3 separate regions of the Homo sapiens genome follow, and regions 1 and 2 are each linked to region 3. Evidence: fine-mapped expression QTL. A gene starts in region 3. Each other region holds a variant in brackets. All regions are shown on one strand. Distances are from middle to middle.

Region 1 (8,000 bases), 38 kb before region 3:
GGCGGGGGGGGGGGCGGGGCCTGTGGGCTGGGGAAATTGAGGGTACCCCGCTCCGGTTACGATTAAGCCCAGGAGGTGTAGGGGGCGTTCACCCTCCAGCTGTGGAACCTCGTATCTCTCCCCTTTCACTGTCATCGCCTTCATTTATTTTGCGTCACATCTTACAGTTTAACAAGCCGCTGGCACAGCCACTATTATTTAATATACAGGATAACCTGTGTGCCTAAAAGACCAGTATCCGGAATATATAAAGAACTTTTTTTTTTTTTTTTTGAGATGGAGTCTCACTCTGTCGCCCAGGCTGGAGTGCAATGGCGTGATCTCGGCTCACTGCAACCTCCACTTCCCAGGTTCAAGCGATTCTTCTGCCTCAGCCTCCGGAGTAGCTGGGATTACAGGCACGCGCCACACCACGCTCGGCTGTTTTTTGTATTTTTAGTTGAGACGGGGTTTCACCATGTCGGCCAGGCTAGCCTCAAACTTCTGACCCCAAGTGATCCGCCCGCCTCAGCCTCCCAATGTTGGGATTACAGGCGTCAGCCACCGCGCCTGGCCTAAGAACTCTTATAACTCAGCAATAAAAAGACAAATACAGTATTCCTGTCTAAAAATGGGCTTCATCTGCAAAATGGAGGGAGTAGAAAACACAAAATTAAAATGAGCAAAAGATTTGAATAGATATGTGTCCAAAGAAGATATATAAATGGCTAATATGCACATTAAGAAATGTTGAATATCCTTAGGGAAATGGAAATCAGACCCGTGGTGAGACGTCATTTCACACTCACTAGGATGGCTATCATAATAATTGTTGGTGAGGATGAATGTAAAATAGTGCAGCCACGTTGGAAAAGAGTTTGGCAGTTCCTCAAAAAGTTAAACAAAATTACCACATGACTGAGCAATTCCACTCATAGGTACATACCCAGGAGAACTGAATATATGTCAACACAAAAATGTGTACTCTAATGTTCATAGCAGCATTATTCATAGTAGCCAAAAAGTGGAGACAATCCAAACAAATCCATTCATCAATAGATGTGGCATATATATGCAATGGAATATTATTTAGTCACAAAAAGGAATAAAGTACTGACATGCTACAATATGGATGAACCTTGAGAATATTATGTGAAAAAAGACGGATACAATGGGGCACTCATATATGATTCCATTAATACGAAAGATCCAGAATAGAAGAAAATCCACAGAGACAGAAACTAGCTTAGTGATTTCCAGGGGCTCAGGAAGGGTAGGAATAGAGAGTGACAGTTAATTAGTGTAAGATTTATTTCTGGAATAATTAAAACATTCTGGAATTAAGCCAGGCATGGTGGCATGATCCTAGAGTCCCAGCTACTTGGGAGGCTGAGTTGGGAGGATGGCTTGAGACCAGGGGTTAAAGGTCAGCCTGTGCAAATTGTGAGACTTAGACTCTTAAAAAAAAAATAGTTCTGGAACTAGATAGAGGCAAATATACTAAAAACCACTAAATTGTATAATTTTAAAAGGTGAATTTTTATGATTTGTAAATTATATCTTTAAAAAAACATGCACTGGAAGCAGGGCAGTTGTGCTCATGTCCATTTTGTATATGAAGAAAATGGTGAAAAGTTTAAGTGACTTACCCAAAGTTTCTAAACCAGTATATGATGGAACCAAGACTCAAAATCTGTTCTTGTGATTCTCATGTTATTTCTTGTATGCCAAATTTCAGATTTTTCAGAGTATAGCTGATTCAGTAGTTCTTCCTTAAATCATTTTATCCTACATCCTTAGCTCAACCGAACAGCACTCATCCATATTAAACCTGTATGTCCACAATTAAGTATAATAGCAACTTTTAATTGAGTGCTTCATTTGTGTCAGGTACTTTACACATGTTATTTCCAATCTTTTACATCAATCCAAATAAAGATACTGAGGATCAAAAAAGTTAAGCATTTGTCCAAACTCACACAACTAGTAAGTGGTAGAGCCAAGTTCAAAGTCAGTTTTCTCCTGGCTGGGCGCGGTGGCTCACGCCTGTAATCCCAGCACTTTGGGAGGCTGAGGTGGGCGGATCACAAGGTCAAGAGATCGAGACCATCCTGGCCAACATGGTGAAACCCCATCTCTACTAAGAGTACAAAAAAAAAAAAATTAGCTGGGCATGGTGGCGCGTGCCTGTAGTCTCAGCTGTTCGGGAGGCTGAGGTGGGGGAATCCTTGAAGCTAGGAGGCGGAGGTTGGGTTGCAGTGAGCCGAGATCATGCCACTGCACTCCAGCGTGGCGACAGAGGGAGACTCCGTCTCAAAAAAAAAAAAAAAAAAAAAAAGCTGGGCGTGGTGTCTCATGCCTGTACTCCCAGCTATCTGGGAAGCTGAGGCATGAGAATTGGTTGAACCTGGGAGGCGGAGGTTGCAGTGAGTTGAGATCACAACACTGCCCTCCAGACTGGGCAACAGAGTAACACTCAGTCTCAAAACAAACAAACAAAAAAACAAAGTCAGCTTTTTCCATTAAAACACACTGCCTCTGTATCTCCTGTGTGTTCCCTAACATTTATTGAACACTTACAGCATACCAGCCATTACTCTAACTTCACACAGATTATCTCATTTAATCCTCACAAGAATCCTCTGAGATAGGTACCTTTATTGTCTCCATTTTACACATGAGGAAATCAAGGTACAGAGAAGAAAACTATCCCACCACAGGTCTCATGGCTAAAAAGTAGGTAAGCGAGGATTCAAACAAAGGCTGTTCAACTTTGGACTATACCCTTAAGCACTGCATTATAGACTTCTTGCTCTTACCCGTATCAATTCCATCTCCAATGGCCTTCTAATAGAAATCTTTAGAAAGCTCAAATATTTTTAAATTTTATATGTCTGGGAGGATATATGTCAAACTGTATTTTAAAGTTTTTTTTCATTAAAAAAACTTTTTTAGAGAGATGGGGGTCTTGCTATGTTGCCCAGGCTGGTCTCGAACTCCTGACCTCAAGCAGTACTCCCATCTTGTCCCCCCAAAGTTCTGGGATTGCAGGAATGAGCCACTGAGCCCAGTCAATATTTTAAAAAAAAAAATTTTTTTTTTTTGAGAAGGAGTTTCGCTTTTGTTGCCCGGGCTGGAGTGCAATGGTATGATCTCAGCTCACTGCAACCTCTGCCTCCTGGGTTGGAGGGATTCTCCTGACTTAGCCTCCCAAGTAGCTGGGATTACAGGCATGGACGACCACGCCTGGCTAGTTTTTTGTATTTTTAGTAGAGATGGGGTTTCACCATGGCCAGGCTGGTCTTGAACTCCTAACCTCAAGTGATCTGCCTGCCTCAGCCTCCCAGAGTGCTGGGATTACAGGCGTGAGCCACAGCTCCCGGCCTATTTTTAAATTTTCTAATTGACACATAATACTTGTACCCACTGGCCAGGTGCGGTGGCTTACGCCTGTAATCCCAGCATTTTGGGAGGCCGAGGTGGGCGGATCACTTGAGGTCAGGAATTCCAGACCAGCCTGAGCAACATGGTGAAACCCCATCTCTACTAAAAATACAAAAATTAGCTGGGCGTGGTGGCCCATGCCTATAGTCCCAGCTACTCGGTGGGAGAATCGCTTGAACCCCGAGGCAGAGATAGCAGTGAGCTGAGGTCTCGTCACTGTATTCCAGCCTGGGCGACAGAGTGAGACCCTGTCTCAAAAAAAGAAAAAAAAAGTGACAATGGGTACAAACTTTCTTTAGGGGATGATGAAATGTCCTAAAAAAGATAACAACTGTACACATTTATGGGGTAACTTTTTATTTATTTATTTATTATTTATTTATTTATTTTGAGACAGTCTCACTCTGTCGCCCAGGCTAGAATGCAGTGGTGCCATCTTAACTCACTGCAACCTCCGCCTCCCGGGTTCAAG[C/T]GATTCTCCTGTCTCAGCCTCCTGAGTAGCTAGGATTACAGGCATGCACCACCACACCTGGCTAATTTTTGTATTTTTAGTAGAGATGGGGGTTTCACCATGTTGGGACAGGCTGGTCTTGAACTCTTGACCTCTGGTGATCCACCTGCCTCGGCCTCCCAAAGTCCTAGGATTACAGGCGTGAGCCACTTCACCTGGCCCAATTTTAATTTTTGTTACAAAAAGCAGACATATTTTAAGAAACATGGAACAAATTCTTATTTTTTTAGAAAAGTAAAAATCCTGTTAGAAACTATTGCCTTATTGTAGCACCTTCCAGGGCTTCCAACTTGGATCTCAGAAGCTCAGCAAAGACCAGTTGATGCTGCTTCTTCGGAAATATAACGGTAGCTGAATTAAACCACAGAAGAAAAAGCAACCCTGTAAGCATGCTTCTTGAGGAGTCCCATAGTGGCAGTATCTTATAATGGTTAAAAGCAGAGACTTAGGAATCAGACTGACCTGTGTTTGGCTGCTATTTTCAGCGCTTATTATGAGTGACTTTAGGCAAGTTACTTTAACTGTCTAAGCCTCAATTACTTAATCTGTAGATTGGCAGTAACATCTATCTCATAAGGTTGTGAAGTAAATTAGATGATATAATCTAAGTGCTCCCCACAAAAAAACTAAGTGCTCCTACATAGTAAGTACTGCACATTACATATCCACTATTACGAGCAAAACAGATCACAAATTTTTTTTTAAATGCAGTTCTATTTTTAACTATCAGTATGCCAGAAAAGCTGTCTCTCATTTTTTAAAGGCACTTTCCTTGTTTACCTCTGGTAGGTTTTCAGGGTCAAATTTCCAATATTATTTTCTTTTTAAAATGTATTGCTATTATTATTATTTTGAGACGGAGTCTCGCCCTGTCGCCCAGGCTGGAGTGCAGTGGTGCGATCTCGGCTCACCACAACCTCCACCTCCCGGGTTCAAGCAATTCTCCTGCCGCAGCCTCCTGAGTGGCTGGGATTACAGGCGCGCGCCACCATGCCTAGCTAATTTTTGTATTTTTAGTAGAGACGGGGGTTTCACCATGTTGGTCAGGCTGGTCTTGAACTCCTGACCTTGTGATCCACCCACCTTGGCCTCCCAAAGTGCTGGGATTACAGGCGTGAGCCACCGTGCCCGACCAAAAAATTATTATTGTTATTATTCATTATTTATATTTGAGATGGGGTCTTGATCTGTTGCCCAGGCTGGAGTGAATGCAGTGGCCCAATCTCGGTTCACTGCAACCTCTGCCTCCCTGGCTCAAGCAATCCCCCCGCCTCAGCCTCCCGAGTGGCTAGCACTATAGGTGCGTGCCACCACACCTGGCTAATTAAAAAAAATTTTTTTTTTATTTTTAATAGAGTGGAGGGGGGCGGTTCTTGCTATGTTGCTCTAGCTGGTCTCAAACTCCTGAACTCAAGCAATCGTCCCACCTCTACCTCCTGAAGTGCTGGGATTACAGGTGTGAGCCACCGCACCTGGCCTCCAATATTTTATGTTTCTCTCTCCCTGACTTCCCAAATTAATTATGTCCACAGTTTGAAAATATTTGTTCCTTACATCTCCATTCACTCATTCCTCGATTCATCCACCCAATGAGCATTGTTAGTGTCTAATTTCTGCAATACACTGGTGTTACAAAGCTTAAAAATTAATTAGACACAGGTCTTGCTTTAAATAAGTTAAAAGTCTACTTTAGCAAATAAGAAAGACAGGACACAGAGTGAAAAAAAATTTTTTTTGAGACGGAGTCTCGCTTTGTTGCCCAGGCTGGAGTGCAGTGGTGCGATCTCGGCTCCCTGCAAGCTCCGCCTCCTGGGTTCATGCCATTCTCCTGCCTCAGCCTCTCGAGTAGCTGGGACTACAGGCGTCCGCCACCACGCCCGGCTAATTTTTTGAATTTTTTAGTAGAGACGGGGTTTCACCGTGTTAGCCAGGATGGTCTCGATCTCCTGACCTCGTGATCCGCCCGCCTTGGCCTCCCAAAGTGCTGGGATTACAGGCGTGAGCCACCGCGCCCGGCCCACAGAGTTAAATTTGAACCTCAGATACCCAAGGAATAATTTATTGCTATAAGTATGTTCCATTCCATGGCACCCTGTGGAGGGGAAAGACTATAGTGTAATATAGTGCTAGAAAAGGACTTACAGAGTGCTGCGAAATTTCCCCTGGAATGTGTCTACATCCTGGTAAGACTGATCTGGGAGCAACTGCATCCCCAGAGATTGTTGTCCTAGGGGAACAAACGCACACCTTGTTTCCAGATTGAAGGGCTAACTCTACACCAGCCCGAAATTTATCAGCCGCGTTGCCACCCATAGCCGCTAGATGCCGCAACAGACGTATTTACTGAAACCATAGACAAACAGGCGACTTGGCCGCCCAGAGAGGCTTTATCCGTGACTCCTTGATCTTCTTCCTGCGTGGAGAGCCTTCGCGGGTGAGGCTTAACGCGCAGGAGGTCTCACGAGAGTGGAAGCAACTCTCGCGAATTTTAAAATTTATCTTTTTGCCTAGCGACTGACAACAGGCTGGTTGCTTGGCGTGGAATCCTAAAGTGGCCTGGCTTTGAGACTGGAGTGAGACCCCAGCCCTAGGCTGGGGTTCTTTCCATTATAGAGGAGACGGATTCAGAAGGGCTACAGGTAATTAGTACTCATCCCAGCAAAAAGGGAACTGTCTTTCTAGAGAGGCTTAAGAGGACTCCCCTTTACCCCATTCCCGGTTACCTCTTCCAATCTCCGTGGTAACTGTTCCTTCGTCACCTCACCACCAACCGTCCTGCTTCCTTTATTCCCCCAAGAAACTTAGGTGGGATCCTATCTGCAAGATAAGGGTGAAAGTGGAGGTGATGATTTTGGGATTATCGGATGGGACTGAGAGACTGGAGTTTCCCCTCTCTTCGGGGACCCTCCCACCCTACCCCGCCTCAGCCCACCCCACCCCACCCCACCCCACCCCACCCCACCCCACCCCAGAGGTGACTCCAGAGACAGAACTCTTTCTAGAACCTCTACAGCCTTCCCTGAGAAACCTCAACAGCCTTGGCCATCTACATACAAATAGTGTTCTGCCCTTGCGCGTGGTCGTACAGCTTTGGGAAGCTGCAGAAGTTGGCTCTCTTTCCCTCCACGATTCCCTGGTTCCTCAGCCAGCCTGCCAGCAGTTCCTAAATAAGGGCTGCAACAGAATGACTTAACTGCTTGACCGAGGGCCAGGAAGCCTGAAGGAAAGTTTGGATGGGGTGATGGTTTTGTGAAAAACTGGTTTCTTGAGTAAGGAAGAGGAGCCAATGCTGGTTTGGAATATACCTCCTGGCAGAGTGCTTTATGTCTCATGATAGGAGCTATGAATTATGTCTCCCTTTGCTTAGACCAAGGTTGTTGAAAACCAGACATATGATGAGCGTCTAGAGATTAACGACTCCGAAGAGGTTGCAAGTATTTATACTCCAACCCCAAGACACCAAGGTAAGAGAGGAAAGAAGAGAAATGCTACTGAAAGAGCAGGATGGATTCACGGTTGTCTTCAAGAAGTTCTTATTTTATAATAGCAAATGTTGACTTTCAGCGTCAATTTACTTCACTTGCCATTGTTTGTTTTCTGACTAGTTAAGGGGGAGAAATCATAGCCTTCCAAATTACAGGATCTTCCCCCAATCCAACCCTGTCACCATTTACTTCATGTTACTGCTTTGCTCACTGTCTGCCAGGAATTCACTGTTCTTTTTCTTTTTCTTTTCTTTTTTTTTAACTTATGTTTTTCCTAGCTTTGAAGATGCTTCATAACCTCCCCTTAGCCTGCAACCCCAACCAAAATCACAGTGGAATGTTTTTAAAGGACTGAACACTATTTATTTATTCAACAAACTTTTTTTTCTTAATTTTATAGAGACGAGGCCTCGCTATGTTACCAAGGCTGATCTTGAACTCCTAGCCTCAAGCAGTCCTTCCGCTTTGGCCTCCCAAAGTGCTGGGATTATAGGTGTGAGCCATCGTGTCTGGCCAACAAGCATTTTAAAATGCCTACTGTGTGCCAGCCTTATGCCTGGCACTTGGGTAAATAGTGTTAA
Region 2 (8,269 bases), 140 kb after region 3:
CCTTATTTAAAACTACAGAAGATTCCTTCATCAAGCAACTAGGAATTAACCATTTCTTTTCTATTTTCACATAATTACCAACCAGTCATTCTACTATCAAAACCCTAAATCAAAACAGCATCCCCTCTGGCTTGACAGATTTCAATCTCAGGTACCCAAGATTTAAGTAGATAGTGCAGATATCTGATACAAGCTGCTGGGGTTTGAAGTCAAATTCGCTGAAGTCCTTGACTTTTAAGGCACCCATCTTGGGGCCAACCAGGTGTTGCAGGAAGTAGTTCAACATGGAGATGATGCGCTCAGCCAGGAAGGGATGCACAAAGAGTGACTTGATCTCTGGAAAAGAATCCAAAGTCTCTGAAAACTCAATCCATTAGCACTCTTTTCCTTATTAGGTATAGTTTATTTGGAGACCTCTGGGAACTACTGTTATTTTATTTCTAAACATTTTGAAGGAACTACTTTTTTAAAAAACTAAGTAATTCATTTTCACTGCAGAAAATATAGACAAGCAAAAAACCAAAACCAAACAAAAAACAGAAAAGACAAAAACTACCATCCAGAGATAAACACTGTTAACATCTTGCTAATTTAACATTTTGTCCTTCTAGCTTTTCTGTCCTTATTTACACACACACAGACATTTTTTAAACAAAAATGATCATATTTTACATATTCTGAAACTTACTGTTTTCAGTAACTATATTGCAAATACTTTATCATTTTAGTAAGTGTATGTCCCTGTGCTATCCAACATAGTAGCCACTGGCCATATGTGGCTATTAAAATAAAAAATAAAAAATCCATTCCTCAGTCACACTAGCCACATGTGGCTAGTTAAGTATGGTTCTGGACAGCCCAGATTTATAGGACATTTTCACCATCACAGAAAGTTCTATAGAATAGGGGTGATTCACATAATCTTTTTAAAAAATGAGATGGGGTCTCACTATATTGCCCAGGCTGGTCTCAAACTCCTGGGCTCAAAGTGATCCTCCTGCCTCGGCTTCCAAAGGGTTAGAGGATTACAGGCGTGAGCCACTGTGCCCAGCTGTTTTACATCATTTTTTAAAAAAATTATTTTTTATTTTTTTGAGACAGGGTCTTGCTGGTGCCTAGGCTGCAGTGCAGTGGCACGATCATGGTTCAAGGCAGTCTCAACTTCCTGGGCTCAAGTGATCCTCCTGCCTTGGCCTCCCAAAGTGCTGAGATTACAGGTGTGAGCCACTGTACCCAGTCTGTTTTACATCATTTTTAATGGCTGACTTTTCCAGTTGTAACTGCACCATAAGTTATTTATTTAATGTCTTTACTGGTGGACATTTTTACTATTTTCAGTTTTTTCCTACACTTATCAATGAACTTCATTGTGGATACATCTTGTAGACTCATCGCTTCTTTTTTTTTTTTTTGAGATAGAGTCTCATTCTGTTGCCTAGGCTGGAGCGCAGTGGCGTGATCTCTGCTCACTGCAACCTCCGCCTCCTAAGTTCAAGTGATTCTCCTACCTCAGTCTCTCAAGCAGCTGGGACTACAGGCACATGCCACCACACCTGGCTAATTTCTGTAATTTTAGTATAGACGGGGTTTCACTATGTTGGCCAGGCTGGTCTCGAACTCCTGACCTTGTGATCTGCTTGCCTCGACCTCCCAAAGTGCTGGGATTACAGGCGTGAGCCACCGTGCCTGGCCTATCGCTTCTTCTTAACAAATCTGTAAGGAACTGCTATGTTATAGGGCATGAATTCCAAAAATTAAAAAAAATTTATACATGCCAAATTTAACAAGTCAGACAGTATCATAATGCTATGTTTGGTTGGTACTGATAGTTCTTGATTTTTCAGTTTTAGTCATTATCACAGATGCCCTCAATATATAGTCAAATTTTTGCTTAAATAATTTAGTTTGTTATTAAGATTATGTAAATATTATTCACAGCAGAGCCATGTGCTGTCCTAATGAGTATATAGTTCCTTTTTAGTATAACTTTTTGCTTATTTGCTTATTTTCAGAGCCTCTTATCACTAAATCCTTTCCAAACTCTCCATTGGAATTTAAAACTCTCAACATGGTCATTTCCAGCTGCTGATTAATTTTTGGAAACATTCTTTCTGGATGTTTCCATCCTTTGCTCCAACCTGGACTGCTTGCTCTACAGGCCTGCTATGTAGTGGCCACACAAGCTCCTTTCACCGTCATCCTGGGAATCTCCTTTGCGTCTCCCTTGTGTTGAATTCCACCTTCCTCCTCCTAGGTTTACTTTCCCTCAGAAATGTGTCTCAGCTTCAAATGACACTGTTGGAAGTGCAAAGCCATTTTGATACTTAAACTATGGTAACATTACCTGACTTCTCTGGGCTATTTTAGGGTCTTGTTTTTACCATGATTTCCTAAAATTTCACAATGTCATACCTCACTGTGGGTTTTAAAAAATTCTCTGTGCAGGGGCCTTGGCAAGCCCTTTCAATTTAGAGGCTGTCTTTGAGTCTTGGGGATTTTTTGGTATCTTTGATAACTTCCTCCCCTCCATTTTTCGCTTTTGAGACTTCCTAGATCCATCCTTTTGTTTTCTTATCCTTTCTCTTCTAATTTCCATCTTTTTCCTTCTGTTCTACGTTCATAGAAGAGTTCCTTGAATTTATATCTTCTAACTCCTTTACTGAATATTTAACATTTCCGAGGTAAAAATTTCAATATCCAAGGGCTCTTTCTTATTCTTCAAATAATCTCTTTCATTGCCTCTTTGTTCTTGTTTTGTGGCTGCTGTATCTTCTCTTATCCCTCTGAGATTAAAAAGTTTTTTTAAAAAGTTTTTACAAAGTTTTCACCTATTTGTTTTTCACATTAGAGGATTTCCTCAAATGTCTGGTGATTACTGATTGTCATATCACATTTAGCTGAGACATTAAAAATGATAATTTCAGTATGTAATCAGTATAAAAATGGACAGATTTCACATTTTAACACTAAGTCTTGTACTTATAGCACATCTCAATTCAGACCAGCTACATTTTAAATCCTTGAAAGCCACACGTTGCAAGTGGCTACTGAATTGGACAGTGGAGCTATAGAAGGAGTAGAGATAAATTTCTGTTAGATCCACCATATTTAACCAGGATTCAAGCGTATTTCTCAGATTAACAAACATATATGTATATATGTGTGTGTACAGACACACATATATTTATATGGCTAACTTGTCCTCAAGAAAGATTTTACCACCTTATGCTCTCTGGCAGCTGTGTGAGGGTGACCATTTCCTCACTTCCATGTCAACAATGGGCATCATCATTCTTTTTGAAGCTTCTCAAGTGATTCGTTTCCCTTCCAGATGTGGAGGATACTGTCACCAGGGTCTGAATTCTTAGTTTCAGCTGGGCTGATCCCCCAAGTGAAGCTGATCTTGGCCATTACTTTTTTGGGGGGAAGCAGTACTTCATGTCCTTACCTGATGTGAGAAAGGCAAGGGTACC[G/A]ATTGTTTCATTGGACATGATGTTATGGAAACGTGCCAGCTGTCCAAACATCTGTAGGCCAGCCTCCTTTTCTCGGCGGGCTTCTGGAGTCAGACTATCCCATTCACCTCGATCCTTCTCAATTTGCTGAATCTTTATCTTGCTCAAATACTGCAGAAACCAGAGATGGGATATATCAGAGAAGAAAGGTGCAGTTGAAGGGACGTGACATTTAAGAGGTCCTATTCAAAATCCAGTCAACTAAGCTGGGAAAACGAGGGACCATGTAAAAGACATGAGCCTTTATTTCTCAGCATAAGGCTGAAGCTCAAAAGAACTTTCAGGAAAAAAAGAAATTGTGGCTTCATACAGATTTGTTTCAGCTTGGGTAGATTCACAGGTAATTCCCCTAGAAATAGTATAGCATTGTGAAATGCAAAGAAGGATGAATAGTTTAATATATGAAACCCAGGCCAAGAAACAAAAAACTAAAAAACCCCACACTATAGTGAAAAAACAATGAATCCTTCCTGAAAGATGAAAACAAATCCCCCCTGCCAAATTGCTTACAAAAAAATCAAAGCTCTATCACATATGCAAGATGCGTGGAAGAACCATAATTATTTAAAACTCTCTACCTCACGTCATCCTTCCTGTTGTAGCAAACAACTTGTTAAACTTACAGTCTCATGAAAATACCATCTGCTTCATGCTTTGTGTCACACACCTCTTGCTTAAAAGGGCCTGTTTGTAACAGGACCTATTCTCGCTTTTGAAGAAAACCTATCTTAAATCCTAAAGCGTAGGATTATGAAGAAATCAGATCAAACCTTTCTCACAAATTAAACACAAGCTACTCAGGGGATTGCTGATCATAAGGAGGAGCTCATGACTGTCTAAAGGCTACCCTCAGGATTTACCTGCTTCATCTCCCTTTAGGTCAGTGCCTTGTCCATCCTATACCCATCACAGGTAAGGGAAGTTTTGCTCTACAGACAGCCAAGTTTTTATGGGAGAAGTAAGCAGTTCCACCAGGGAAGGTTAAGGAAATAATACACTGAAGGAGCTGAGAGGCACCCAGCTGCATTTTATACTTTGTGAAACCTTTGTTTCACCATATAGCTAAGAATTTAGAAGGCAGTGGAAATATGAGAAGTATTGACAACTTGGAGCCTTTATATGAAAAAATAACCCAAATCAGAGATTTTCTTTCAAGTAGTGGTGCAAAAATCAGAATCTTTTAGGAAAGTGGGTTAAAAATCACTGTCTTAGTGAGATATTTTACTGACATGTTGGGATTAAAAGGGTTGAAAGTCACTGACCAAAAGCAAGCTCCTCTGATTTCTTTCTGTAGTGCTGGCCTGATGAATTACTCCTGCCAGTACAACTTAGTTTGGCTTCACCATATGGTATTTTTGACTCTGCCAAAATGTCCATCTCATGATGCTTCAATGACCCTTGATCTTGGTCTCTAATGGAATGAACTAGAAAGCTCTATAATGACAAGCTTGGTGGTACACTACTAATCACAAATTTTTGGTGTTCAAGTCTGGTACTAGGGGCATAAGGACTGCTCTATTATGATTAAAAGGTAAAATGTATGTACTGCTGATGATTTGATGGTATGGAGAAGTTAAATCTTTTTTTTTTTTTTTTTTTTTACCTGTATGGCTTCATCCAAAAGGAAGATGGCATCATTCATTAGCAGGTTAAGAAAGCGGAGGAAAAGTGGGGGATTCATGGCTTCTAAATTCTTAGAGGCATAGTCAGCCAAATCCTGTAAGTCCCAGCCCACAAGAAAACCATTTTAGTACTGAATTACAACTCATTAGGGCTTATATAAAGCAACAGGTTTCATCAAAAACTCTCTCACCTTAATGCTCTCCCGATAGGTATCTGTCCCCCACATGTATCTTAGGATAGGATACATGGGACGGCGGTAATTAAACTTCTGTTCAAATTGATGGGGGTCTCCTGGAGTAAGGCAAGAGCGAAATATCAGCAAAGGCGGTGCCATAAGAGGAAGAGTTTATGCTTATGTGTAGCCATTTGCTTTGTAGTCATTTGCTTTTGAGTGTGTTAAGGCTACTAACAAAATCTGCCCTGGAGTTTCTAAAGGCCTAGAGTTATCGCCAAGTGTTTGCTCATTTCCTTACTGATGAAGTAAGGGGGAGACAGAGATAAAGGATACCTTACTCTGCAAGAGACAAGTACCAAGCTGTAAAATAAAAGTTAAGGGAAACAAATGTTTCCATATCCAAACATGAGTACTTCTCAGGCTTTAAATGAGGGCTCAGGGCTGGCCATTATGGCAGTGAAAGCCATGTGCAGGACGGGACACTAAGCAATTCCCACATTCTTCACAGACAATATCCCAAACTGTGTAGCCAACAGGTTCTTGATTACTCTGAAAAATCAGGTCAGGAGCTAAAAATCTGAGGCTTATACTGCTTTTGAAATACCAAAGGTATTACTAGAGCTCCACAGGCTGGGTCATAATAAAGGAAGAGTGTAGGATTTGGAGTCAAAAGACCTACGTTTTCATTCTGGCTCTGCTTAATCTAAGTCTCTTAATCTTCTTCAGCTTCCACTTCCTCAGAAATAAAACAGAAATTGTACTCCATTACAACACTTTGGTTGTATGGTCACATAACGAGATAACTGCAATGATTTATTATACAATTTCTTATGTATTATAAAGATTTACATGCATTATTTCACTTAATCATCACTTTGACCCATTTTATAGATGAGGAAACTAAGGTTGATAGGTGAGCGAATTAAAAAAAACCAGAATCCAAATATGGAAAGGCGGCCAGTAAAATGTTAAATGCCTCTTTAAATGTTAGTTGTATTTATCATTGGATGGTAGATATCCCTTTAAAAAATGGTCTTCAACAACTTCTTAACATATCTTATTTACTGATTGAGACAGGGTACTGTTTAAACAAACACAGGGGCTCAGGGTTAGATAGAGAGGGAATGTTGCCTGCTGGTTTTTTTTTTTTTTTTTTTTTTTTGAGAGGGATTTCTTGCTCTGTCATCCAGGCTGGAGTGGTGCGATCTCAGCTCACTGCCACCTCTGCCTCCCGAATTCAAGCAATTCTCGTGCCTCTGCCTCCTAAGTAGCTGGGATTACAGGCACCTGCCACCATGCCTGGGTAATTTTTGTATTTTTGTAGAGAATGGGTTTCACCATGTTGGCCAGGCTGGTCTCAAACTCAGGAGCTCAAGTGATCTGCCTACTTTGGCCTCCCAAAACGCTGGGATTACAAGCATGAGCCACTGTGCCTGTCCGCCTGCTGGTATTTTTAATCGAACCATTAGACTGTTGGAGAGTTAGATAGTCTGGTTAAGATAAAAGAATCTCTCAACCAATACACTGCCTCTTTATGCACTATTCTGTAATTTTAAGGCAGAGAAATATAAAGACCCAAATAGTCTAATTTGAGTCTGATTTGATGATGCAACATAATAAGGGTGTTGAATATGTAGATTTCTTTAGGTGACACAGACCTGATTCTACCACTTGGTAGTTTGTTATGACATGGACAAACTGATCTTTTGGGCAGTCATGTCTTCATATGTAAAACAAGAATAATTAAAAAATAAAAAATAAATAAAACAGGGATAATAGAGTGAAACTTTTCCAATGGTGACAATGGGATAATGTTAAAAAAAAAAAAAAAGCACTTATCATCAAGCCTGGCATATAGTAGGTATTCAATAAGTAATGGCTTGACATTTCTTTGATATCCAAATACGGATCAAACTATGAAACTCCACTGGTATCAGCTTCCCAGTTCTGGGCTCAGCTTCATGACTGCTTTACCTGTAAATTCGATGTCCACAAAAACCTTGATTAGAGCCTCTGCAAGTTGGGGTGCATACTGAAAGTTGCAGAACACACGTTTCCGGTGGAACACACTGGATACCAAGGGATTTGGGGTCTGATCCAGGTGGGGCATCACTGCTTCCAACACCTCTGCTAGTTTGGCCCTCAGGTGGGGATTCTTCATTCTGCAAAATGGGCAAAAAGCAAGATGAGCAGATAAGCTTAACTCCAAATTTATGACTCTGTTCTCTCCACATAAGAATCAAAATCCACCCTAAACCATATTACAGGAAAAAAAAGGATCCACTTCTGCAGTTTTAAGTTTGTCAGTTTCTTGGTGCGGCTGGGCGGGGGGTGGGGTGGTGATGCAGGGTACATCATTTAACTCTTGAGTTGACAGCTTACCAAATATGACGGTGAGCACTTAAGTTTCTATTGAATGCTTAGCCATTGTTTACTTCTCTGTAATAATGCATTATTTACTGCTTCCTATTCTCTGACAGTTTCATGTGGAATAAACTTGCCTTTTCAAGCTTTCTGAGGGTAAAGACTAGAATATAATTATGCTACATTACCCATGACGCATACAGTGTATGCATAATACTTGTTGACTTATGACTTCTCATTAGGTATGCTCAGCTCAGTGAAGAAATGGCTTCTCTCTACTTATCACTGATACGGCTCAGGGAATTGTGGGTCATTCTCTTCATTGTGCAGCAAATCTTCACTTTTGTACACAGAGTTTCCACTTCCTTTAGCCTATGCATCAAAAAAATCAGGGAAGCAATTCTACAAGTCACAGTATCTTCCTTTGGAAAAGAGGACTAGAAGCTATGAGTGAGAAAACTTGAAATGAGAAATAACATTGACTTAAGTTTACTGCTCATCCAACTCAGAATAGCAAGAATAAGCTTTATTATCATATAATTATTAGAAGATCATTAGCACCTGGCTGCCACTGTTAAGTTTCTGGCATTAGGTT
Region 3 (8,234 bases):
GGCCTCTGGCATAAGCACAGGGCTGGGGGGCAGAGGAGGAGGGTGGCAGGCCCCTTCCCCAGTACCTTGGCTGGTGAGGAGGCCGCCGGGCTCCGGGTCCAGAAGCTCTGGCCGGCTGTTGTTCTGAGCCATCTGCCGGTCTGCTGGTTTCACTGCTGGTTGACAAAGAGGGCAGTGTTCAGGACGAGGAGTGTGCCTGATGAGGCCTCGCCCCTCCCAAGCACCAAGTTCTTTTTCTCAGAAGCACTTCTGGAGATTAAGCAGGGGCAAAGAGCAGGGCCCTAGATATACCTCTGGAATCTGGAGTGAGGTCATTGAGCTGAAGGTTGGACGGGAGGGACATGTTCTCCCGTGGCAGGCGCACGTTGTTGAGTTTTAGGTTGTTGGAGTCACTACAGGGAGGACAAAGTTCGGGATGGATATGAGTCCCGGCACAGGCACTCATGGCTGCCTCTACCAGAAACCCCAGGCTCCCTCCTGTCCCCATCCTGCATTTCGGTTAGGCTTGTCCACCCAGCCCAAGGAAGAGTTACCTTGATATCAGAGATGGGTGCCGGGAGGGGCCTGTGGAGAAAGAAACCATGTCCCTAATTCTCAGTGTGCCCTCCCACGCTGGGCTGTCCTACCCTTTCAGACCCAGGACCCTCAGGCAAGGGGTCTCTCAAATGCCCAGGCCTGGCCCTGGGGCCAGAGACTGGGTTCCCAGTGCTTGACCCTGCTACCTGGGATGCATGTCACCGTACCCATGGCCACCCCCTGGAAGTGCTCTGCCACCGTCAGAGATGACTGGTTCTGCCCAGCTGCACTTGCTGTCTTGGCTGCTGCTCAGCCTGACCTCATCCACACTGCCCCCAGTGTCCCTGGCCTACCTTTGGTTTTCTTCTCTTTTCTGCAGACCAGGCAGGCCACCAAGGTGCTGAACCCCACGAGGGTGCCCAGTGCAAGCCCAGCAGCCACAACAATGCCCAGCAGTGGCACTTCCACCCGGGTAGCCAGAAGCCCTGGAGGATGTCCTCTGTGTCAGGTCCCAAGTGGGTAGTGCCCCAGCCCCAACATGCCATAGGTACTACTCTGCCCTCCTTGCCCAGGGTGGCTGGGGACAGTTCATCCACAAGACCCAACCACAGGGCAACAAGTATTCCCATTTCTGTATGGGGACGGGACCCCTGAGCCCACCTGAAGCTTTGCAGGGCCGCTTGCTGGCCATGCTCACCTGGGGCTGGAAGCGACGCACTGGTGACACCCACGTCATTGGTGGCCACCACCGAGAGGTTGTGTGCCAGGCTGCGGAGCTGCAGCTGCACCGTGTGGTTGGTGAGCCAGGGGTAGTTCTGCGCATCCAGCACCAGGAAGTCAGAGGTGTTGACAGTCACTGGCCCATCCTGGTCGATCCAGGTGACATTGGCCGGCGGGTTGGCACGCACCAGGGCAAACAGGACAACCAGGAGGCCTGGGCCCTGAGCTTCCTGGTACTTGGCGCCGACTTGGGCAATCTCTGGCTTGACTGGTACAAAGCAGAGGCCAATATGCTCTCACCACAGCCCCTCATACTTCTAGCCCTTTCTTCCCAAACCCAGATGGGAGCCAGGGGCCTGGGCCTCTCCTCAGAGGGGATGCTGAGGAACAGGATGGCTGGGTCTGCCAGAGAGGCAGCATTTCGGAGTGATTATGAGTGTAAATACTAGAGCCAAATGCCCAGATGTGAATCCTGGCTCTGCTTCTTACCAGCGGGATCATCACCCTGGGCAGATTGCTTACCTCTTTCTGCCTCAGTTTTCTTATTTGTAAAATGGTGACGACAATAGTAATGACCTCATGGGGTTACTCAGAGGATCAAATGAGTTCATATTTGCAAAGTGCTTAAGTGTCTGCTAAATGTCCTGCGGACCACCTGCCTGGTGGGTGCTGGGGGTCCCTGGGCAAAGAACCTATCTCCCTGCCCACCTCAGGGCCACTCACATTGCACATTAAGGATGACAGAGGCGTTGGCTGATCGGCCACTTCTGGGGTCCTGCAGAGAGCAGTTGAGCTCATGCTGGGCCCGATGGGCAGTGACAGTGAAGGTGCTGGTGCCTCCAGAGAAGGCCTCCCCTCCCACGCTCAGCAGTCTTGAGGTGCTGGCCTCCTGCAGCTGTCCATCCAGATACCAGGCCAATCTGGGGGTGCCAGGCCCCCCTGCCACCCGGCAGGTGAAGGCGTGGCGTTCATTCTCCCGAAGTGCCCGCTCAGCCCAGGTCTGACCATCTATTTGTGGCTCCAACTCCCCCCAACCTGGAACACAGCAGGAGGCCTCTGGGAAGGGCTCAGGCACGGTTGGTACTGTGCTGTGACCAGGAATTGGCCCAGTGAGAAGAGCAGCAGGCCAAAGGAAAGGGCACCTGAGTCCTCTCACCAGGGACTGGCTGGTTGGACCTAGGGTAGGTGGGTGAAGGGGACAGGGACTCCAGGGCTTGGGGCCTGGAGTGGGTACCCAAACAGAAGTGCAGACAGGGGAGAGAGGGGGCTTTGGAACCCAGAAGGACTTGGTCAACGACTGAACAGGGGTGTACCTGAGCTCAGAAGGGCTGGCAGGAGCAGCAGTGTGTGCCGGAGGGCGGCTGGGCCTGGAGGCAGCGCCATGGTGGCCCGGGCCTAGGCCCTAGGCTGCTGAGAGAAGGGGGCGGGCCTGTCAGCCAGGTGACAGCAGGCAGGCCTAGCAATTGCTCCAGGAATTTACTCTCCAGAAACAAAAAGAACCATGTACGGAAACGCAAATGTAGACCAGCCCCCAGTGGCGAAGGCACGGACACGAACGGCAAAGCCCAAAGGCACAGACCCACCCAGCAGACACATGGACATCCTGCAGGCGCAGAAGCGAGCACTGACTCCAGGCTACAATACAAAGAGGCACACACCCGCAGATACGCAGAAGCAACGAGCATCCGTGCAACCACACCTTGCACACACGCACACTCACACACATACTCCACGCGCCCCTCCCCCAAAGGGATCGCCTTTCTCCTAATCCTATTCTCTCTCCTGCCCTGTTCCCATCCTCTCTCCTGCCCTGTTCTCTCTCCCATCCCTCGCCCTACGCCCCCTTTCCTGATGTTGGTGGCTCCGGTGGATGTCGGCGGAAGAGGAGAGGGTCGGAGGGTGGGGTCGCCGAGCATCCCGCCCCCGCCCCCCGCCACCGGGGCGGCTCACCTGGCTCCCTCCCCGAGCGCCGCCGGAGCAACTGCTCAGGTCTGATGAGCACCGCAGTCCGCTGCAGGGGCGGGGGCTGCGCCAGGCGGGGCCAATCGATGCCCGACCACGGGCCCGAGGGGCCCTTACCCGGCAGGTGGGCGGCCGCGGCTCACCACCCCCCGGCTGGTCCCCAGCCCGCGCCGAGTACCCCCGAGTGCCCTTCTCTCCGGGCGCGGGCAGGACGCAGGAGCAGGCGGAGTCGGTGAGGCCCGACGGCTTTATTGGTTCAGGGCCCAGTCCCGTCCCCTCGCCCGCGGACGCCCGGGTCCGCGGCGCTCAGCGGCTGTCACGGGGGCGGCGCAGCTGCCCCATCATGTCGGCCAGCATGCGGTTGCACAGCGCGGCGTAGGGGTTGAGCAGCACCAGCTGGCGCCGCGCGAAGGGGCTGCCCAGCCGTGCCGCCCTCTCGAAGTCCCTGCGGGCGTCGTCGTCTCGGCCCTGCAGCCGCGCCAGGAGTCCGCGCTGCACAAAGCTCTGGCGGGCGGCGCGGCCCCGGCCGCCGCTCAGCTCCACCGCGCGTTCCAGATCCTCCAGGGCGCCTGCGGGACCGACGAGACGGGCGGGGCGGGGGTCAGCGGAGGCCAGGGCGGCCTTGCCCGAGCCCCAGCCCACCTGCGGCCGCGCGGATCACCGTGGTTCTTGCGGCTCCCGGGCGTGGCCATTTACAACCCGCCTCGCACCTGCTAGAGGTACGGATCGTTATTCCCATTACACAGATGAAGACTGTGGAAGAGTTAAGCTCTACAGCCAAGCCACTTAGTGGCAGAGCTGGGACTGAAGTCCAGGTCTCGCCTTGTTCCTATTATTTTCCACCGCTAATACACGAAAACATGAACGTTGCAGGATTCTGAATGGCCACTATGTTTATGAGTCTGGCCCACTGCCCGGGCAAGTAGCAGCCAATTTATTCCACACCTGTTATTAAGCATCCACTATGTGCCAGGTGACTGACTCTGAATGTCAGGGTTCAAAAAATAATATTAACCGCACAATCATTTCTTACAAGTACAATCAAGACAGTTTCTCATTGTTTTCCTTTTGAGGGCCGTTTTCTCTTTTCCATTGCTTTCTTTAGAACACCTTCTCTCTCCCCTGTATCCTGGACTGATTGCCTTTCATCATTCTTTGGTTATCTCCATGTATCTAATTTCCTTGGTCCTGGAGCCAGAGCTGGCCTGCACCATTTTTATTGTTATTATTCTCATAAAATACTTGGGTTGGGCCTCAGAACTCTGAACTCAGAACTTCAGGCAGCCAGCCACCTTCTTAAAGTCCACCAGGCTGGCTTCTTTCGGGCTCTGCTTCAATTCACTCATGTTCTCTAGTCCCCCAAAGAGCCTGAGCCTCCGGAGAAGCGCTCAGAATGCAGTACTCCTTGGTTTCCCTCGGAGGAGCTGGTCTGGAGGAATCTCCAGTTGGAATCACCACTGCATCTCTCTGGGGTTTTGGTCTGCAGGCTGTCTCCAGTGATCTGGGGCAGATAAGCCTGGATAAGGGGCTCCTGGGAGGTTCCCATTGTTCCTGGAGTGGACTCAAAACTCCCTAGCCTGGCATTGCTGGTTCTGGGAGCACCTGTGTCACCACTGCTCCTAACAGTCAAGTAGTACTAGGTTTCCGTGGTTTATACCTTCACATTAGCCTCATCTTTGGTCCCCAGCATGGTCCCATTGTCTTCACTTAATTAGAATAACCTGAATGCAGCAGGAGTTTTGGACCTCTACAGACTGTACCTTCTCCACCCACCAACTAACTCCCACTCATCCTTCAAAACTCGCCCTTCAGGAACAGGTCCCACGCTGACCCCTCTCGAACTTGTTTTGCTGGTCTCAGAATTATGTGTCTGCCCTGCCTCCTGGACTGGGAGCTTTTCGAGGAGCAGTATCATGTGGGGATTAAGAGCACACACTCGAGCCCTACCACCTGGTTGACATCCCAGCTCTGCTGCTGCCTGACTGTATGATAGTGGGCAAGTTACTTAGCCTCTTCATGCTTCAGTTTCTTCATCTATAAACTGGGGATAACAATAGTACATACTTTTTAGGGTTGTTGTGAGGATTGATTTACTAGTTTGTATGTAAAGTGATTAATGCCTGGTACATAGTGACTGCTATATAAATGTTGGTGATCCATATACCTTTTATCTCAGTGTCCTCAGCACCAGCCTACTGCCACATAGTAGGCTCTCATTAACTGTTCCTTAATCAATGGAATGCAGTCTCTTCTGAATTTCACATTAACCCCATGATATTAGCAGGTCCCCTGATACTACTCCTACCTTATAGGTAAGAAGACAGGCTCCACAGGGGTTTAGCAAGGCCACCCCAGCCGCACAGCCACTTCAGTTCTGGTCTGTGCCCTCCCGTGGGCCCTTTTGCAGAGGATACAGGGCATCTCCCCTTACCTGCCACGTCTCCCTGGAGTCGCCGGGCCTGGGCACGGTTGTTGTAGGCTGAAGCCCTCTCAGGCAGCAGGCAGATGGCTTGGCCAAACCTCTCCAGGGCTGTGCTGAGGTCCCCAGCCTCTGCTGCCATCACCCCCTGCAGCTCCAGGGCCTTGGACTGTTCCAGCTGTGCTTGAGGGAAAACTTCATCTGGGCCAGGGAAGGAGCCAGGAGAAGCCAGGTGTGCAGTTGGTAGCAAGAAGAAAAAGCCACCTCAGGCTTTGGAATTCTGAGATCTGAGCCAGAGCTGACTGGGTATGGGTCACAGCAGGGGTCAGTTGCAGTGTTTGGGGTAGGGGGAGATGAGGTCACTAAGGCTGGGAGCTAGCATTGCCTGAGTTCCAAGAGACCTGGGAAGGGGCCTTGGTTGGTTCCCCATTGCCAAGAGAATGAAGCCCAGACTCCTCAATCTGTTAAAGAAGTTGCTCAAGTTCTTTGTGTATGGCCTCAACAGGCCATACGTTGCAGAGCTTGGATTTGAACCCAGGTCATTCTGGCTCCTGTCTGCATTTTACTCTACTACACCGCCTCTTATGCAAAGGCCACCATGACATTCCCAGATCATGAACATCACTTCTGACGTATCCCTCTGTGTTTCGGCCTGAGTTAGTAAGGTGTAGGCTTTACTCCTCTAGAAACAAAGGATCAAAAACTCCTTCATTAGGGATTAATGGAAAAGCCAGTGAACGCACTCACTGCGGAAGAGTTAGTTTGGAGCTTGGCTTGTGACAGTGTTTAACGGTTACTGGTTGTGCTTGCTATATTGGAACCACTCAACTGAGCAACCATGCCCTGCCTTATTTCAGTCTTCTGTTCTGGTGGTGGTATTCTCTGTTATGACAAAAATGTGAGAGTTTAACATCACCTGGCAGTTAAGCTTGGATCATACAGTCAATTAAGTGGTAAGTTCAGAGGCATGAGAGCTGATGGATCGAGAGACAAACCCCAGCTTACTCCTCTTGGCAGGACATCTCTTACCAAACCCCCATCAGTGCGCTAAGGAGCAGCCAACCTCTCTGATTCCAATCTCAATCATAATCATGGAACAAGGGGCCTTATAAAACCACCTCCCTCTCTGCTACCTCGGGAGGCCAGCAGGCCAGCCTATGTGCAGAGCTACACTCCAGATCAAATGCCCACCTTCTTCTCGTTCTTCCTTTTCTGCTTCCTCTCCGAGGTCCAATCCAACAATGTCTCCAAATGGGGTGTCAGGGTTGAAGATGGCCTGCAGCACTGCCTGATCATTTGGAGTCCCCATGGTGCTCAACTCCAAAATCCCAAAAGGTGACTCCAGATGAGAGAAGAGGGAGGGACGTGGTGAGGGTGGAGCCTCCAGCAGGAAGTTGATCTGAAAGGATGAGGACCACCCCTTCGTGAGGAGTGTCTCCCTGTCCATGGCTGTAGCATTTGCTCAACCTGTGGCCTGGAGGGTTGACCCTGGCTTGGCAGACTACTTGGTTATTTCTCAACTGCCCCTGCCCCCAGGAGAAACAGTAAACAAATCCAGCTTCAGCCTTAAGGTGGAGTGCAGCTAGAGAAGGTGTTCTCCAGCTTCTCCCTGAAATGCTTTCAGTTTATTATATTCACAGTTGAGAAAACCGATAAAAATCAATACTTAACCTCCTTGGATGAAACAGGGGAGCTATGTAGAAGGTAAAGGCCCTGTTCCTTTGTCCTCTTGACCCTGCCTCATATCCACAATTAATTAGGTCCTGAACATACATCACTGATGAATAAAGGAAGAAAATAGTCAAGAGAGCCAGTGTGGAGTGGACCTGAAGGTGGGCTACAGGGAATAATTTAGTGATGCCACCTTAAAGTAAAGGACTGTGGAAGGTACTTTGTGACCAGGTCACAGGCCATGCCCCTCCCGCTTTTCTCCACCCTCTCCAACCAAAGCCAAAAGGAAGCTTAACCATGTGCAGCAATAAACTTGACATGTTTATTAATTAAACTATCACTTAAATAAAAAAAAGTGCATAGAAAATAAACATGTTTAAAAACTCCTTTTTTTTACAACTATGTACACTTTTTACTTTTACATTCAGTCTTTCGTAGAGAGCTTTCAGCATTATTATTTTTTGAACTATTAAAGTATTTTCCTTCATCCCTGTCACAGGGAGTTAACACTGATGGACTTTAGACACATTTTCCTTTTTTTTTTTTCTCTTTTTCTCTAACCAGAAGCTTGGAAGAACACAAGGAAAAAAAACAGATCTGTTATACATGATAAAGTTGTCAAAAAATGTCTTATTTCTAGAAAAGAAGCTTGTCATCTGTTGAGCTCTTGAAACAATTATTCAACTACCTGTATTTACTAAAGAGACTGTTAAAAGTTCAATAAAAGAAACACCACAATTCTATTTTCTTGGTTGAAAGACAGAACTAGAGTACCTCGGAACAAGATACCAGGAAAGCACAGAACACAATTTTCCCCTAAATGCAGGTGGTAACCCCAACATTCATAACCAAAAATAGAGAAACAAGGAGGACAGGTACTGACTGGCAACATTCATGGGCAGAAAAAAATCCAGGTGACACCATGTCTGCATTTTTCTCTGATCCG

What was found. PIP is the estimated chance that this variant, and not a neighbour inherited with it, causes the effect.
Region 1: its variant is fine-mapped to the expression of TMEM25 in caudate (GTEx, PIP 0.98).
Region 2: its variant is fine-mapped to the expression of TMEM25 in whole blood (INTERVAL, PIP 0.94).

The regions. Positions count from the first base shown.
Region 1 is chr11:118,564,363-118,572,362 of GRCh38, reverse strand. IFT46 (intraflagellar transport 46) reads left to right here and starts at 6,432. Exons shown (of 12, transcript NM_001168618.2): 1 at 6,432-6,573; 2 at 7,302-7,398. LOC124902764 (a long non-coding RNA gene) reads right to left here and starts at 7,302. Exons shown (of 4, transcript XR_007062907.1): 1 at 6,989-7,302; 2 at 6,658-6,751; 3 at 6,077-6,161; 4 at 3,764-4,285. RefSeq lists enhancers at 163-292, 6,160-6,389. The variant C/T (reference allele first, on the strand shown) is at 3,896.
Region 2 is chr11:118,381,792-118,390,060 of GRCh38, reverse strand. It overlaps UBE4A (ubiquitination factor E4A), which reads right to left. Exons shown (of 20, transcript NM_001204077.2): 13 at 7,285-7,472; 14 at 5,326-5,426; 15 at 5,116-5,229; 16 at 3,449-3,623; 17 at 156-336. All of the region lies in intron 3 of LOC100131626 (a long non-coding RNA gene), which reads left to right. Among named protein-coding and RNA genes, the nearest start is that of ATP5MG, 16 kb to the left of the region's middle. The variant G/A (reference allele first, on the strand shown) is at 3,474.
Region 3 is chr11:118,526,187-118,534,420 of GRCh38, reverse strand. It overlaps TMEM25 (transmembrane protein 25), which reads right to left and starts at 3,229. Exons shown (of 9, transcript NM_032780.4): 1 at 3,187-3,229; 2 at 2,550-2,646; 3 at 1,960-2,271; 4 at 1,214-1,504; 5 at 870-1,001; 6 at 534-564; 7 at 292-392; 8 at 66-155. The coding sequence starts at 2,619. KMT2A (lysine methyltransferase 2A) reads right to left here. Exons shown (of 36, transcript NM_001197104.2): 36 at 7,589-8,234. It overlaps TTC36 (tetratricopeptide repeat domain 36), which reads right to left and starts at 6,947. Exons shown (of 3, transcript NM_001080441.4): 1 at 6,809-6,947; 2 at 5,630-5,818; 3 at 3,428-3,767. The coding sequence starts at 6,926. The coding sequence ends at 3,505. It overlaps TTC36-AS1 (TTC36 and KMT2A antisense RNA 1), which reads left to right and starts at 3,646. Exons shown (of 3, transcript NR_120574.1): 1 at 3,646-3,917. RefSeq lists silencers at 2,982-3,081, 3,112-3,551, 3,672-3,951, 4,473-4,767.